Linked DNA regions of Homo sapiens: region 2 is linked to region 1. The links come from fine-mapping of genetic effects on gene expression. A gene starts in region 1. The other region holds a variant in brackets. All regions are shown on one strand. Distances are between the middles of the regions. Region 1 holds the start of TMEM63B (transmembrane protein 63B). Region 2 overlaps TMEM63B (transmembrane protein 63B).

What was found. PIP is the estimated chance that this variant, and not a neighbour inherited with it, causes the effect.
Region 2: its variant is fine-mapped to the expression of TMEM63B in whole blood (INTERVAL, PIP above 0.99). The same link has a PIP of 0.9 or more in cerebellar hemisphere, cerebellum and monocytes.

What each region holds. Positions count from the first base shown.
Region 1 is chr6:44,124,168-44,132,489 of GRCh38, forward strand. It overlaps TMEM63B (transmembrane protein 63B), which reads left to right and starts at 3,387. Exons shown (of 24, transcript NM_018426.3): 1 at 3,387-3,511. It overlaps MRPL14 (mitochondrial ribosomal protein L14), which reads right to left and starts at 3,285. Exons shown (of 3, transcript NM_032111.4): 1 at 3,177-3,285. RefSeq lists silencers at 3,018-3,077, 3,108-3,157, 3,178-3,577, 3,618-3,727, 3,908-4,067 and 1 more.
Region 2 is chr6:44,145,740-44,154,061 of GRCh38, forward strand. It overlaps TMEM63B (transmembrane protein 63B), which reads left to right. Exons shown (of 24, transcript NM_018426.3): 11 at 1,108-1,188; 12 at 1,638-1,761; 13 at 2,513-2,646; 14 at 2,774-2,911; 15 at 3,053-3,206; 16 at 4,120-4,226; 17 at 4,485-4,571; 18 at 4,825-4,890; 19 at 6,107-6,269; 20 at 6,854-6,959; 21 at 7,937-8,104. It overlaps LOC107986599 (a long non-coding RNA gene), which reads right to left. Exons shown (of 3, transcript XR_002956350.2): 3 at 8,099-8,238. Among named protein-coding and RNA genes, the nearest start is that of CAPN11, 8.9 kb to the right of the region's middle. RefSeq lists enhancers at 3,431-3,600, 6,115-6,284. The variant C/T (reference allele first, on the strand shown) is at 4,131.

The DNA.
Region 1 (8,322 bases):
GATGTCAGATAGGCAGGAGAGTAGTGTGAAAAAGTTAAAGAATGGGGGTGGGAGGGTGCTGCTGATGGAAAGCATATATCTCTTTCACTCCATCCTCCCCTTCTCTCACACCAAGTCTGTGGCCCTGGAATCACCTGTCTGGGTCTCAACGACTCTCTGTCAAGCAGAGATCATATTGGGAAAAGCAAAGAGGTCTGGAAATGGAAGTGCTTTAGCTTCACTCATGTAAGGGATCATTTTAATGTGGACAATCCTTCTCTGAATTATCCAGTACAGACTAGATCTGCAGGATAGTTTGTTTACCAGATCCTGGCCAGGAAGAGCAAGCTCGTTCCCTGATTCTCAGGGCAGCACCATAGGTGCCTCTTTAAGATCATAGCCCTGAAAGTGTTTTCAGTTTAGAGTGGACATGGTAAATTACTTCCTCTCTTTTCTAAGACATAAAAGATTTTTTGAGTTTTTAACAGAGGGCTCTCCTACTCTGAGTGGTTTCACTGGTGAATGGTAAGCTACTTTACTATGACCTTTTTAAATATTCAGCATATTACCTGACCCAGAACAACATTTCTGAGATCTGAACTGCAGTCTTCTCTTGCATACTAGTTGTCACTGTAAATACACATGTAAAATCACACCAGGGTAAGCTACAACCCAGACAAACCATGAGCCTATAAAATAGAAGGCTAAACCATAACCTGCTTTTCGAGACCCCCCCTACAGCCCTAAGAACTATCCAAGTAACCTGACAGTAGGAAAATCCACCTTAGGTGTGCCCAGGCATGATAATCCCAAAGACATAAATGGAGCAAAATAGGTTTTAAAGAATTCTTGCAACACTGAAGACTAGGAGCTAAGAAGAGTCTAAATAACCATGCTCAGTGCCCAACCACCTGAAAAGTGGACTCCAGGGAAATTTTGTTGTTGTTATCCACCCCGCCCCAAGGGAAACATTTTATCTTTAATATTCAGGAGCAATAATAAAATATTTTGGCCACTGTTCTTCAAGGATTCCACAAGGCACTTAATTCTCATGTCAGGCTTTCTGAAATGCTTGCCCTGGAAAGTGTCACTTGATGGCTCACACACTCCTTGAGGATTAGGTGCTGACCCTAATTAGGCACAGGCAGAAATAGTTCAGGAATCCACATGCTCAGATTCATAACTATACTTTTTGTAAAAAATAAAAACATATAAAAAATGCCTTCTGGCTGGACAAGGTGGCTCACGCCTGTAATCCCAGCACTTTGAGAGGCTGAGTTGCGTAGATCGATTGAGGTCAGGGGCTGGAGACCAGCCTGGGCAACATGGTGAAACCCTATCTCTACTAAAAATACAAAAATTAGCCAGGAGTGGTGGCTCGCGCCTGCAGTCCCAGCTACTCGGGAGGCTGAGGCATAAGAATTGCTAGATCCCAGGAGAAGCTGCAGTGAGCTGAGATCGCACTGCTGCACCCAGATCTCCCCAGCCTGGGCAAGAGAGACTGTCTCAAAAAAAAAAAAAAAAAAAAAAAAAAAGGCCTTCTAGTGATCCTCAGAAATCCAAAAACCAGACAACTATGGCTTCCACTTCCATTTTTCAGATATCCATTATAATACTATTTGACCTCAAAGTGAATTTTATTGTTCCACACAAGCAACAGATTACACCAATTTCACAACTCCCAGAATCCAAACCTACAAAGACCCTTCCCACCAAGCACTTTACCAAAAACGGGCTTCATCTCCATCTTCCTTTCTTTCACAGTTGAAAAACTGCCCTTCCTAATTAAGCCAACCAACTTCTTACCTCAATAAAATCCTTGTTTTTCAGTAGCACGTACAGTATTTCCAGTGATGAACAGTGAACTGTCTTTCGTCTCACACAGTAACCTCCGTGAAGAAGATCCACCTTGTTCTTTACTGTATATTCCTGGCATGCTAACTGCATCCTCAGACAATTTTAAGTGACTGAAAACTCAGGCAAAGAAAGGCAAGAGGGCAAATAGAAGGGCACAGGAGACAACGCTTTTCAAATTTTTCTCACTGCGACCTACAGAAACACACTGTAGAACACCTCCTAGTACACTCACACGTGTGTGTACACCTGAAGTGTCAAGAAACAATACCCTAAGTGCAACACCCTCTGATATTTTCTATTTCAAGTGGCCGTGATCTACTAAACTGATTTCCAACTCACCAATAGGATTCAGTTTGAAAAACACTGCAATAAATCAAACCTTACAGTTGCATTCCACAAGCTACTAATGAACTCTTGAAAATCCAGCATACAGCAGAGACGCTGACCAACTACAAGATCCAAACCCCCCAGGTGGGCAGTGTCCTTCTGTTCAGCAGTGGCAGTTCCCCACCACCACCAGCCCTGAGAGTTAATTATCTCCCAAACTCCCAGAGTTTCCCAAGTAGCCTGAGGTGTCTGTCATATGCCCTTTTAACCTCTTTATAAATTCAGTCCCGTCCGTCTCTTACGGTGGCAAAGTTCATTTATCGTCGGCTGTGGAAAGCAATACTTCCTTTTTGTCCCCTCCAGGAACCAGAAATTAAATGACCAGGTTGGTGCCCGTTGTGCCTTTATGATCTATTTGTGTGGGTGATATATAGAAAGAGTCTCAGTCTCTCCCTTCATCTTTCCAGTCTTAATCACTGGTAGATGCAGTCTCTGGTGAAATAAGAAACCAGGGAACCCCCTGGCCTGGGGGAGGGCGCACTCATCAGCGTTGACAGAGTGAAAGCAAAAACTCAATCCTCACACCACAGAGGCGTCTGGCTAACTCATCTCCAGACCTAAGTTGGGAAAGGGGAGGGGAGCGCGGAAAGCGGAGAAGCCGGAGGAGACGCTCCGGAGTGACCAGCGACGGCTGAACGCAGCCCGCCCTCCCCAAGTCGACGCCGCAACCCGGGGAAAGCAGGTGAGCGCCGGCCACGGACTTGGGGGTCGCAGAAGCAGCCCACGGAGAGCGGAAGGGAGGAGGATCCGGGTAAGGGGCCTCCCCTCCCCGTCGGGACCCCCCTCCCCGTCGGGACCCCCCCCTCCCCGTCGGGACCCCTCCCACTGACGCTCTGCCTCCCACTCTGGCCTCTCCTCACTCACCCCGGGGAGTGGGCCTCCCCTACTGCAGAGAAAGGAAGAGGAGAAGGAGGGAATGAGGACTTAACGCCCACCCCTGCCCCCCACCATACCGCTCTCGCCGCCCGGGAAAATCCCGCCGCGGGCCCCACCAGCCAAGCGCCGCCTTCGCCCCACGCGGCCTCTTCCTAGCGCCTGCGCGCCAGGCCCAGCCCGGCGGACGCGATCTGAGAGTGCGCGCGCACCTTGCGTGCGCCGGCGTGCGGGGCGGGACCTGCGGGGCTCCGCCCCCTCCCCCTCCCTCCCCCCGCTCCCCCTCCCCCATACACTGCCGCGGCCGCCGCAGGAGCCCGGAGCTCGAGCCGCCCAGCGACTCCCCCTCCCCCTCCCCCAGCCCCGCCCCGCCCCAACCCGGGGCTCCGAGCCGGAGCCGAGTCTGCGCCTGGGGGTGAGTACGCGACCCCTACCCAGCCCTCGCTCTTTTCTTCGAAGATCCCACCACCACCCAAAGAAAAAACCTGGACTCAGCTGCGCGTCCCCTCCCTTCAACCTCCTGCGGGACCCAGAGGTGCCCGGGCCCGCGGGACCCAGGGGTGGCGCGCGCTGCCCCCAACCCCGCACCATCCCGAGCCAAATGTGAGTCCTCCAACCCCTGCCGGAGGTCCAGATACGCGCCGCCGGCTCTCCCCAGCCCCGGGGAGATCCCAAAGGGTGGGACCCCCGCCCCCGGCCCCCGAGTGCCACTCTTCTCCCACCTGCCCGGTGCAGGTGCGCGTCCCCTGCGCGACCCTCGGGGGTGCCAGCTGCGCCCCGCCTGTCCGCCGCCGTTTGGGGAACTAGCCGCCCCCGCCCCCGAGTTTTGGACCCCGGGGTCGCCAAGTCCGATGCCTTCTGTGCCTTTTATTTTTTCTGCTGCTCCCGGGGGCGAGTACACCCGAAGCCGGTCCGGGGTAAGGGCTCGGGCTCGGGCAAGGGCAGGGTTCGCAGGTGCTGGCACGAGGCCGGCCGCTGCCCCCGGCTCTGGGGACTGACTGGTCGGCGGGCTGGAGAGGCGGCCGGCCCCGGGAGCGTGTCCTCTCCTTGCGCCCCACACAGTGCAGTTCATTCATGAGCCGCCCGGGCCTGCGTTGGAGGGTGCGGTGGGGAAAAGATTCAGACGCGAAACCGAGAGTGGGGCAAAGGCCCTGTTGTGGGGAGGGGGCGCCGCTTTGTCCCTCCTGGCTGTCTTGACCGCCTAAGGCGGACAGTCCCAAAGCTTGGCACCTTGTTCCCCAGAAAAGGAAAGGACGCTTGGGAAGTGGGGAGGAGAGGTCAGAGGGGCTGGCTGCCCTTGGGGCGCTGTGCTGCCCCCTGCCTGGGTCCCCTGGGCAGAGGTCTGGCCGCTCGGGGCAAGCCTGAGCACTCCACCGCCCTGGGGGGCTGGGGCTTGCCTACCCATTACCAGTCTGCAGCAGCCGGGGAGCAATGAGGCTGTGCCCAACACCTGCTGAAGAGGGGCCCATCCTGCCTCCCAGGCCAGGGTGAGGTGGGGAGTGGGAGTGTCAGCCAGGCTTCAAGTGGGGGTGTGCTGGCAGCGTGATTGTCCTCCAGGGCACCAGAGGGTCCAGGCCTTGGCATGCCCCAGGTGGCACATGCTGGGGCCTGCTGTTGGCTCACTCAGTGCAGTCTTGGCCTGTGGGTGGATGGGGACATGGCAAGGCAGAAGGCAGGCAGTGGGTAACTAAGAACCCCCTTGGACATCATTCAAGTTCTCTCCAAGTATAGCAGAGTCTTAGAGACCTGCGTTCAAATTCTAGCTCTACTATTCTTCAGCTGTGTGACCTTGACAAGTTACTTAACCTGTCTGAACCTCAGTTTTCATTAAAAAGTGTTTATGCCTATAATTCCAGCACTTTGGGAGACTGAGGCGGACAGATCACTTGAGGTCAGGAGTTCGAGACCAGCCTGGCCAACATGGTGAAACCCCATCGCTACTAAAAATACAAAAATTAGCCGGGCATGGTGGCACACACCTGTAATCCCAGCTACTCAGGAGGCTGAGGCAGGAGAATGGCTTAAACCTGGGAGGCGGAGGTTGCAGTGAGCCGAGATTGTGGCACTTCACTCCAGCCTGGGTGACAGAGCAAGACTGTCTCAAAAAAAAAAAAAAAAAGAAAGAAAAGAAAAAGAAAAAAAGTGTGGTTACTACCACCTCCTTACAAGTTTTATCATGGGAATCAAACAAGGTAACAGAAGTAAAGAGCTTGGCATCCTTCCTGGTAATTGATCAATAATGGGTTATCATCTCTGAACTTCTGACCCATAACTCTCCCATGCCTCCACCTCCCAGGCTACCACAGATGGATGGGGTATGTTCAAAGAGTGAGAATATTCCCTGTCACTCAGTGGCAGAGTCCCTAACACAGTGTAAACCCTTAGGTCTAAATAAGAAGCCCAACCTGACTGAGGGGCTCTGTTATATTTCTATCATGTTACATTCTGTGTTTTTATCTTATTTTTGTTTTTACCAATTTTCTTTCTCTAAACCAACCCCTTTTATTCCATACCTTATTAATAACAATAACTAATTCCTAGAGCCCATTATATGCCTTGAACTATATTAAGAGCTTTACATAAGTCATCTTGTTTAATCCCCAGAACAACAACACAACTGGATTATTGTCCCATTTTACAAATGAAGAAACTGAGGCCCAGGGTGACTAAGTAATTTTCCCAGGTTAGAAGCCTGGTCTGTCACATCCTAGAGTCTGTGCTTTTAACCACCAGACTATGGTGCCTGTCCCCTATGCCTGCCTCAGAACCTGAAATCACAAACCCAAGGCCTGAGTGGAGGGAAGCTACAAGCAAGAGGAAAGGCAAGCAGGTAGAAATAGGGTATGGCATTTCTCCAGTGTGGTAACTGACTGCCTCCGGCTCCCTGGTGGAAGTGGCTCTTGTTTGCAGATAACTCTGCAAAGTGCAGTGGTTAAGAGCATACACTCGAGCCAGGCAGCCTGGGTCCTTATCTGGGTCTACCACAGACTGGCTGTGTGACCTTGAGCAGCTCATATACTCTCTCTGTATCTCAGTGTCCTCCTGGGGTTGTGATGGGGAGCAAATGAGTTACATTTGTAAAGTGCTTAGAACAGTGCTTGGCACAAAAGAAGAGTTAAATAAACATTTAATACTATTATTTTACTACTTTTTTTTCTTTTTCTGTTTTTCTTTTTTCTTTCCTTTTTTTTTTTAGACACGGTCTCTGTCTGTCGCCCAGGATGGAGTGCAGTGGCATGATCTTGGTTCACTGCAGCCTGGAACTCCCTGGGCTCAGGTGATCTTCGCACCTCAGCTTCCGGAGTAGCTGGGACTACAGACATGCACCAGCATGCCCAGCTAAATTTTGGTGGTGGGGGGTATCTTTTGTAGAGACGGGGTTTTGCTATGTTGCCCAAGCTGGTCTCGAACTCCTGGGCTGACGTGATTCTCCCACCACAGCCTCCCAAAGTGCTGGGATTACAGGTGTGAGCCACCATGCCTGGCTTTTTTTTTTTTTTCCCCTCGAGACAAGGTTTTGCTCTCTTGCCCAGGCTGGAGTGCAGTGGCATGATCATGGCTGACTGCAGCCTCCAACTCCTAGGCTCAAGGTATCTTCCCCACTTGGCCTTCAAAAGTGCTGAGATTACAGGGGTGAGCCACCCCACCCTGCCTACTACTACTTTTTTTTTTGAGATGGAGTCTCACTCTGTCGCCCAGGCTGGAGTGCAGTGGCATGATCTAAGGTCACTGCAACCTCTGCCTCCTGGGTTCAAGTGATTCTCCTGCCTCAGCCTCCCGAGTAGCTGGGACTACAGACGCATGCCACCACACCCAGCTAATTTTTGTATTTTTTTAGTAGAGACGGGGTTTCACTGTGTTGGCCAGGCTGGTCTCGAACTCCTGACCCTGTGATCTGCCCAGCTCGGCCTCCCAAAATGCTGGGATTACAGGTGTGAGCCACCGTGCCTGGCACCTACTACTACTTTTATGCTCACTTGTGGATATATTCTTGCCTTTCTCTCTGAAGTGGGTAGGGGTAGAGTAAGGATATTTGTATCTCTTTGTTACAGATTGGAAGACTGAGACTCAGGTTTCGTAGTAACAGAGCTCGCTTCCATCTTCCCCTCCTCCCCTCAGACCACATGGCCTTGCTTTGATCCAAAGCCCTAACTTAAATCTTGCCCAGTAACTCCACTGAAAAAGCTTATATCACTCCTGTAATCCCAGCACTTTGGGAGGCCGAGGTGGGCAGATCATGAGGTCAAGAGATCGAGACCATCCTGGCCAACATGGTGAAACCCTGTCTCTACTGAAAATACAAAAATTAGCTGGGCGTGGTGGCATGTGTCTGTAGTCCCAGCTACTCAGGAGGCTGAGGCAGGAGAATCCCTTGAACCCAGGAGGCAGAGGTTGCAGTGAGCCAAGATCGCGCCACTGCACTCCACTCTGGTGACAGAGCGAGACTCCGTCTCAAAAAAATACACAACAACCCCCCCAAAAAAAAGCTTATAAGTTATAGCTCTCCAACCCCCACCATGCACACACTCCTTAATGGTAAAATTAAAAAGTTAGCTAGAAGTAAAATGCTCCATCACTCTCTGGACACACCTCAACCAAAACCTCAATATCAGACTAGAGAAACTGGGATATAGCTGGTGCAGGCACCTCGTGGAGTGGAAGAACTGCCACCTCCCATCCCCAAGGTATTCTGCCTCAATGTCTTCCCTCTTCTCAGTTGCTCAGCCCAGTGCTGGCTTTGAGAGCAGCTGCCCTTGATGAAACTCAACCCAGCAACCCCACCCCCACAATTAAAAGCTTGGAGCAGCCCTGTCAACTGGCAGAGCTGCCAGCCCAGGCTCCACCCCTTACCTGTCCTGTCACTGTGCAAGTTGCTTCCCCTACTGGGTTCCTGCTTCCTCCCTGTAAAATGGGGATAGTGATCTGAGTGTGCCCTGCCTTCCTCCCATGCAGGTGGGAAGATTAATGCTGTTGTGGAGGGGAGAGTACTTTGTGACCCCAAGGAGGCGGACAGCAGAGGAGCATGGTGATTTCAGTTACTAACCATCTAGCTAGATCCTGTCCACCCTGCTGGGGCCACTTCATGTAGAAGCTTCCAAAATGCTCTACCTTTCTTTGGTGTGGAGAAGACAGGAGTTGATAGGAATGGTACTCTGGGGCTTGTTCTCATTTCATTCTGATCTGATGGAGCCTTGGAATTCAGAGAGAGAAACAGGCAAGGGGTGG
Region 2 (8,322 bases), 22 kb after region 1:
AGCCTGGGCAATACAACAAGACCCCATCTCAGAATATTTGAAACAAACAAACAAACAAAAAAATGAACTATTCCTTCACTCAGCAAGCATTCTTCAAGCCTTGCCTGGTACCAGGTACTAGTGAGTCAGTGCCAGTTTCTCTCTGGTCAGTCTTAAGTCAAGGTAAGGATGAATCTGGGGTCAGGGTTAGGAGGTCAGTCTTGGGTCTGGGCAACAGGTCTGGGGTCAGTCTTTGGCCAGGGTGGGCTTAAGGGTCAGTCTTTGGCCAGGGTTACAGGTCAGTCTCACCCTGGTCAGGGGTCAGGATCAATCTCTTGTCTGTCTTGGGCCAAAGTTAGAGATCATTTTGTAGACTGGGTTATGGGTTGGTTGAGGTCAGTCTGTGGTCAAGGCTAAGTGTTGGGCTGTGACCAGGTCTTCTGGGAACAGGGTTAAGGAATTATATAGCCTATGACTAGATGCAATTTTTTTCAACCTAAAGGTCACAGCCCTGGACAGGAATCAGACCATAGCCCTGGCTTCCCTACCTGCATGCAGTATGTCCCTACACATCCTGGTTTGTTAGCCCAGCCTGCAGTCACACAGTGCTCAGGCCTTCTGCTCCCACTTCCCCACTCAGATAAGCATGAGGAGGAACTCCAAAGCTTTATTCTTGGGGAACTCTCAGTTTTGTAGACTAAGAAAAAGGCAGCTTGAATTGGAGATGTGGGTTTTTTTGTCTTTTTTTTTGAGATGGAGTCTCGCTCTGTCGCCCAGTCTGGAGTGCAGTGGCGCGATCTTGGCTCACTGCAACCTCCACCTCCCGGGTTCGAGCAATTCTTCTGCCTCAGCCTCCTGAGTAGCTGGGACTACAGGCACGTGCCACCATGCCCAGCTAATTTTTGTATTTTTAGTAGAGACAGGGTTTCACCATGTTGGCCAGGCTGGTTTCGAACTCCTGACCTCAGGTGATCCTCCCGCTTCGGCCCCCCAAAGTGCTGGGATTACAGATGTGAGCCACCACGTCCAGCCAGAGATGTGTTTCTTGAAGGTGATGGGGTCATGGATGAAAGTCAGGGGCAGGTGGGTGGGGTCCCTGCACAAGATGATACATGAACTGTGTTTCAGGGAAGCCTACCCCAACTGCACAGTTCTCGAAGCCCGCCCGTGTTACAACGTGGCTCGCCTAATGTTCCTCGATGCAGAGAGGTAAGGGACTGGGGGCAGAGGAGGGTGACACCAAGGGCCCCCTGCCATTGTGGAGGACATCTTGGCTACCACACAGGCTCCCCTTCTAGATTTTTTCCTAGGGCATTTGATTTTAATTCAACTCGTTGGTGTGCCTGTTAATTCAGCTCTGGAAAGAGCAAGGCCTGGAGGTTAGAGTTTGTTGTGAGGGGAAGGGGGGCCCATGGTCCCCACTGCATCTGAGGACATGCCCTTCTTTGGCTACAGTATGAGAAATTTAGGTCAGCCTGCAGGAAGAACTTCTGGCCCTCTAGGGATGGGTGGGGAGACCTTGGGATGTGGCCACATCTGAAACATGTATCCTAAACAAGAACAAGACAGCTCCTGTCCTTGGGGAGTGAGCTAGATGACCCCCAAGCTGAGCCAGCCCCAGCCCCAGATGTAGGTGACCAGGCATCTGGGTCCCACAGGAAGAAGGCCGAGCGGGGAAAGCTGTACTTCACAAACCTCCAGAGCAAGGAGAACGTGCCTACCATGATCAACCCCAAGCCCTGTGGCCACCTCTGCTGCTGTGTGGTGCGAGGCTGTGAGCAGGTATGACGCGGGCTGGCTGTTGAGTCGGGAGAAGTTGGACAGGTCCTGGGCAGGCAAGGCTGGGGCCCTGCCCTCAGTGAGTCCCCACCTGTCCCTGGAATCCTTGAAGCCTCAGTTCCCACTGTTGGGTTTGTCTAATGTCCCTACAGTGACCAGGTTTTCAAACCTCAAATTAGAAAATGTCAGCCAAAAGGACAATGTTGTGCTGTACCCACTGACTCTGGGGACTTGAGCAAGTTGCTTACTGCTCAGTGCCTCAGTTTCCTCATGGGGTTAACGTACCCACCTTATGAGAGTGTTGTGAGGGTAAAGTGAGTAATACATATAAAGAAGCTTAGAGGTGCTGGGTGCGGTGGCATATGCCTGTAATCCCAGCACTTTGTGAGGCTGAAGCAGGTGGATCACTTGAGCCAGGAGTTTGAGACCAGCCTGGGAAACATGGCAAAACCTGATCTCTACAAAAAATACAAAAATTAGCCAGGCATGGTACTGCACACATGTATTCCCAGCCACTTGGGAGGCTGAGGTGGGAGGGTCACTTTAGCCTGGGAGCTTGAGGCTCCAGTGAGCTGAGATTCCACCACTACACTCCAGCCTGGGCATCAGAGCGAGACGCTGTTTCCAAAAAAAAAAAAATGCTTAGAGGAGCAGTGCCTGGCTTGTAGGAAGCCCCAAGTCAGCGTGGGCTGGATGCTGCAGGCCCCAGCCTGGCTTTCCAACTAGAGGCCCTGTCCCTAACCCTCCCACAAAGGTGGAGGCCATTGAGTACTACACAAAGCTGGAGCAGAAGCTGAAGGAAGACTACAAGCGGGAGAAGGAGAAGGTGAATGAGAAGCCTCTTGGCATGGCCTTTGTCACCTTCCACAATGAGACTATCACCGCCATGTGAGTCCCCAACTCGGCCCTCGGCCCTGAGCAGCCCTCCAGGGCTCCCTGACCCCTGTGCTCATGGCCTTCTGCCAGCAGTGTGGCCTCCAGGTGGGCCTGTGGTAACCAGTGCCCATCTTTCTAGCATCCTGAAGGACTTCAACGTGTGTAAATGCCAGGGCTGCACCTGCCGTGGGGAGCCACGCCCCTCATCCTGCAGCGAGTCCCTGCACATCTCCAACTGGACCGTGTCCTATGCCCCTGACCCTCAGAACATCTACTGGTGAGCAAACAGGTGTCAGGGCAGGCTTTCCAGGGCCTGGGATGGGCTCAGTAGGTAGGCGGAGGAGAGGGAGTGTCTTGGTGTCACTGGGGGCCAATCCTGCCCTTGGTTCCTGGACTGACCGGTTCCCCACCTTGCCAGGGAGCACCTCTCCATCCGAGGCTTCATCTGGTGGCTGCGCTGCCTGGTCATCAATGTCGTCCTCTTCATCCTCCTCTTCTTCCTCACCACTCCAGCCATCATCATCACCACCATGGACAAGTTCAACGTCACCAAGCCTGTGGAGTACCTCAACGTGAGGCCTCATGCCCCTGTCACTTTCCACGCTGGGTCACAACACACAGATACCAGGCCCTGATCCCTCTTCCACTTGCCCAGCCCAGCCCGTTCTGCTTGTTCCAACCCCGTGCCACCAACCAGCTCCCAAAAACCCCTGTGTGCACTTCCCTTGGGCTCCCTGCCACCTTCCCCCTGAGAGAGGCCACCCTCAGGTGTGCAACACCTGGAGAAACACCCAGGGAAGAGAGAGAGCCTGCATTTAGTCCTGATCTCAGAGAAGTCCCCTTCCCTCACCCCTCAGTCTAACTGAAAAAATGGAAAGGTTCAACTAGATCAGTGGCTTTGGACTTGGATTCTGATCTCTTTATCGGTGTGAAACCCAGTGTGGAAAAGCAGGGCTGCTCCGATGACAGTAGGGTGGCATGCATGTCTGCCTGGCCTCCCCTCACCTCTCCTCCCACGCATAGAGCATACCTCTTTAGAACCTCAGAGTTTGAAGAAGGACAGTTTGCAAATCACTTGGAGTGATAATACCATAATAGATAAGACCCAGACTGCATGGATTCAAATCCCTACCTCATGGCTTGCTAGCTAGGGAAGCTATTGAATCTTTTTTTTGCCTCAGTTTACTCATCTGTCAAATGGGGTAACAGCATTATTGTGAGGATTAAGACATGGCAAGTACATCAGCACTGCTTAGAACATAGTAGATGTTCAGCAAATGCTGACTATCAGTATTATCCACCCTGGGGTTATACATATGGCCCTGGCCCCCACCCTCACCCCAGCCCTCCGGATGTTCTGGGCTTCCAACATGGGAGCCCTGAGAGTTGTGAGGCCAAGGGCCCAGCTGGGGAGGAGGCACATAAGCAAAGCCACCTGGGCCCCCTAGACTGCCCTGCCTGACGCCCCCCTGTGCCCTGCTGCAGAACCCCATCAT[C/T]ACCCAGTTCTTCCCCACCCTGCTGCTGTGGTGCTTCTCGGCCCTCCTTCCCACCATCGTCTACTACTCAGCCTTCTTTGAAGCCCACTGGACACGGTAAGGTGCCTCCACTCACACCACACCTCGCTGTGGCCTGCCCTCAATGACCCATCCTCTCTGGGCAGCACTTTGCCCTTCAGGCTCCTGGCCCTGGGCAGTCCCACAGCTGGTAGGGAAGGGGTAGTGCCCAGCACCCTCACCTTGGGAGGCCCACCCTTCCCAGGGGACACTCCTTGGACATTGTCCTTGTTGGGGGAGCAAGTCTGGGGCCTGGGCTCACTTGACCTGTACCGTTCCCTGCTCCCCTCCCTCCAGCTCTGGGGAGAACAGGACAACCATGCACAAGTGCTACACTTTCCTCATCTTCATGGTGCTGCTCCTACCCTCGCTGGGACTGAGCAGGTGAGTTGAGAAGGATGGGGCAGGAGCCAGGGTAGGGGGACAGCAGGATAGGGAGAGGAGAGCAGTTCAGCCTCCCTACCTCCCCTACAAAGCAAGGGGCCCAAGATGGGAAGCCTGGCCACCCCCAGGCCTCCTGAGCTACCCACCCCATGTCTGGGAGTCTCCCCAGTGGCTCACAGAGGAGGGACTTCCCCTCCCCTGGTGTTCTGTACCACTCCAGCTCCCACCCCATCTCTCCTCTGCTTCCCTCCAGCCTGGACCTCTTCTTCCGCTGGCTCTTTGATAAGAAATTCTTGGCTGAGGCAGCTATTCGGTTTGAGTGAGTGACTGGGGCCCCTAGGGAAAGAGACCAGACAGCAGGGGTGGGTATGCTTGAGAGACATTGCCAGCCCCATGGGAGGGTGCAACAAAGCTTCCAACTCCTGGAGGGGGCAGAAGAGAGAGGATCTGGCGGGGTTACCCCAAAGGCACCCACAAGGTGTCTTGGGTGTGTATACATGGTAGAAGTCCCTGGGGTCTGTGTTGGTGTTCACTCTCTGGTAACCTGTTTGGATGCTAAGATCATCCTCAAGGTATATTTGGGGCTTGGGGCTCCACATTCTGGTAGTTTCTATGGGGGTGTCTTGTGCCCATATTCTGGGACTAACTGTGGGCGTCTCTGGAGTTCCACTTGGGAGGTTTGGGGAACCATCTCTAGGGAGGTCTTGGTGATACTTAGGGAGTGTCTTGGAGGCTACTAGGGGTATCCCTGAAGGTCTCTAGAGCCCATATTTTTGGGTATGTGTAGGAGGCTCTTGACCTTATAACTCTGGGGGTGTCTGTGGGCGGGGAGGCTAAAGGACTCACACTTTGGGATGTTTAGCAGTACAAGTTCTGGGAACATCTCTAAAATTTCAGGCTTTTATTCAGAGATGTAACTGTGGAGTTCTGTATGGGCATCTTCTCTGGGAATCATGTGAGGATATATTGAAGGTCATGCACCATGGCTGTGGGCACAAACTCTAGGGGTTTTGCTGTAGGCCATCTGTGGTGATCTTTGAGTCACACTTGGGGCATCTCAGGCACTGATAAAGGTTCCTGGGCTCCCCCAGAGATGTTGCGGGAAGGGTCTCAAAGCTTGTTTGTGGAGGTATCTGAGGCTCATGTCACACTCTGGGGGTAACTCGAGTTATGGTCTAAGTGGGGGAATCTTCTGGGTGTTCCTGGGGCTGTCAGCCTTTGGGTTCTTTGAGGGTCTCATTGGGTTGTCTTTGGGGGTCCTGGACAGTTCTCCCCTGAACATTCTAGCAGCCTTAGGTGGTCTTGAGCACTCTCTCCATGGGTCTTTATGGGGCACAAGTTCTTGGAGCTGTCTGTTGCCACTCTGTATGTCTCTGGGGGGAACAGGGCACAGGTGCTTGGGGCGCTAAGCTGGGGGTGTCCACATGGAAGAAGCATGTTGGTGGTGGAGGTGTTGGGTGCTGTAGTTCTGGCAGTGGGCGGGCGGCCACCGGGTCACCCCAAGGGTGCAGTGCTGGAGCACCTGGTGCCCGCAGGTGTGTGTTCCTGCCCGACAACGGCGCCTTCTTCGTGAACTACGTCATTGCCTCAGCCTTTATCGGCAACGCCATGGACCTGCTGCGCATCCCAGGCCTGCTCATGTACATGATCCGGCTCTGCCTGGCGCGCTCGGCCGCCGAGAGGCGCAACGTGAAGCGGGTACGGCCGCCTGGGGCAGCAGCGGCCCGCACAGCGCCCCCTGGTGGCCCAACAAGAAACAGCAGCCATCGCGCTAGGGTTGAGGGGCACAGGAGGGCTGAGACTTGGGGAGTACAGTTGACTCACGGTGGATCCGGGCCATCCCCTTCCCATATCTGGGGCCTTCGTATTCTGCCATGGGTGGACATAGGTAACCCTGAAGGCCCCTGCCAGTTCTGACAGTAGCATTCTATGATGGGAGTTGGGGAGATCTGGGTCCCTAGCGCTAGGGTCCCTCTGTCTTAATAAGAGGGCTCTGGGCATCCCACTCTCAAGTCCACCCAACTCTTGCCCCCTACCTGCCAGGCCCCGACCCTTGAAGGCCCCTCTCCGTGCCCCATCACTGCAACCGCCCTGACCCTCCTCTCGGCCATAGCCCCTCTCTCCATCTGCTCTGCCCTACCCTACCCTAGACATTAGGTCCTGTTCCCCATGGCTTCTTTTCCGGCCCCAGAGGTCCTGGCTCCCTTCCCCCTCCCTCCTTCCCTGCCCCTCTGGTCAGTCCCTGCCTCCCTGAGCCATCCTCCTGCCCGTCTCCCCCCCAGCATCAGGCCTACGAGTTCCAGTTTGGCGCAGCCTACGCCTGGATGATGTGCGTCTTCACGGTGGTCATGACCTACAGTATCACCTGCCCCATCATCGTGCCCTTCGGTAGGCACCGCCGCGCCGGGACCTGGGCCCTGCTCGGGGGGACCCAGGACTTCACCCTCTCCACTCTAGGAATGCAGGCCACCCCGAGTGGACAGGGCCCGGCTGGGAGACCGGCCCCTCGGGGCTCCCGCCCGGTCCCTGGCTCAGTCTGGGGCCTGGCCTGTGGGGAGGAGGGGGAGAGCCATCAGCTCAGGCCAGACCCAGCTGGCATGTGGGCCCCAGGGCAAAGTCACACCAACATGGCCATACTTACCCACACCTGTGCCTTCCCTCAGCGGGATGTGCTTGGACACAGATCACATACGTGCTGACATGTTCACACACACACTCCCACACAGGCATCCATGTGCACACTTTTACACCACCCTGTAAACTCAGGAAAGACTTGGATTCCAGGGTGGGATGGGTCCTTGCCACTCATGGAGATAGTCTGCTGTATCTGAGCTATGTGACTTGGCCAGGTCTCTCTTCCTTTTTGAAGTTTAGCAAAGTTTCTCTTTAACCATCACCCCCACTGGTAGCCTCTACTTTCCTCCCTAATAACATCCTAACTCCTTAACCAACCCTCCCTGGTTATTGAAGGCTCCAAGTTCCCAAACTAACTTCCTTGTCCTCATTAGAAACTCCCTATCCCTCAGCCTCTGGGGAAATAGAACTTGTCCCTTAATTTATACGTATCTGTTTAGGGACAGGGTTAGAGAAAAATGATACGGGTTTTAAGAAGATGCTTGTTGATTCAAATGACTAGATTTCCAATAGTAGAATTCCTGATGAGGAGAGTAGAATGAGGGGTTGTAGCGGAGGAAGCTGAAGTTCTGTGATCACGCTGGGGCACGGGGCACTATCCCGTCCTGGGGCCCGGGCAGGAGGAGGGGGCCAACCCTTCAGCACTCTCAGGACCAGAACAACCTGTGACAGACACACAAAAGGTTCGGCAGCACTGGTTCCGAGGTCAGGGCCCATGTGGCTTCCCTTAGGGCTCATGTACATGCTGCTGAAGCACCTGGTAGACAGGTACAATCTCTACTACGCCTACCTGCCGGCCAAGCTGGACAAGAAGATCCACTCGGGGGCTGTGAACCAGGTGGTGGCCGCGCCCATCCTCTGCCTCTTCTGGCTGCTCTTCTTTTCCACCATGCGCACGGGTGAGGGATCCCTACCCAGGGAACGGGGGGTGGCGAGCAGAGTGGATTCCAGCCAGAGCAGGCCACAGGAGAAGCCGCATGGCTGGGGGTGGCAGGCAAGGGGCCTGGGAGAGGCTGGGGCCAGTCTGTAGCACCTGGGAGAGTGAGGACTGCATTCAGAGGGTATCAGAAGCTGGGGTGGGGAGGCCCACAGGAGATAGCAACCCCATTCTTTGCCC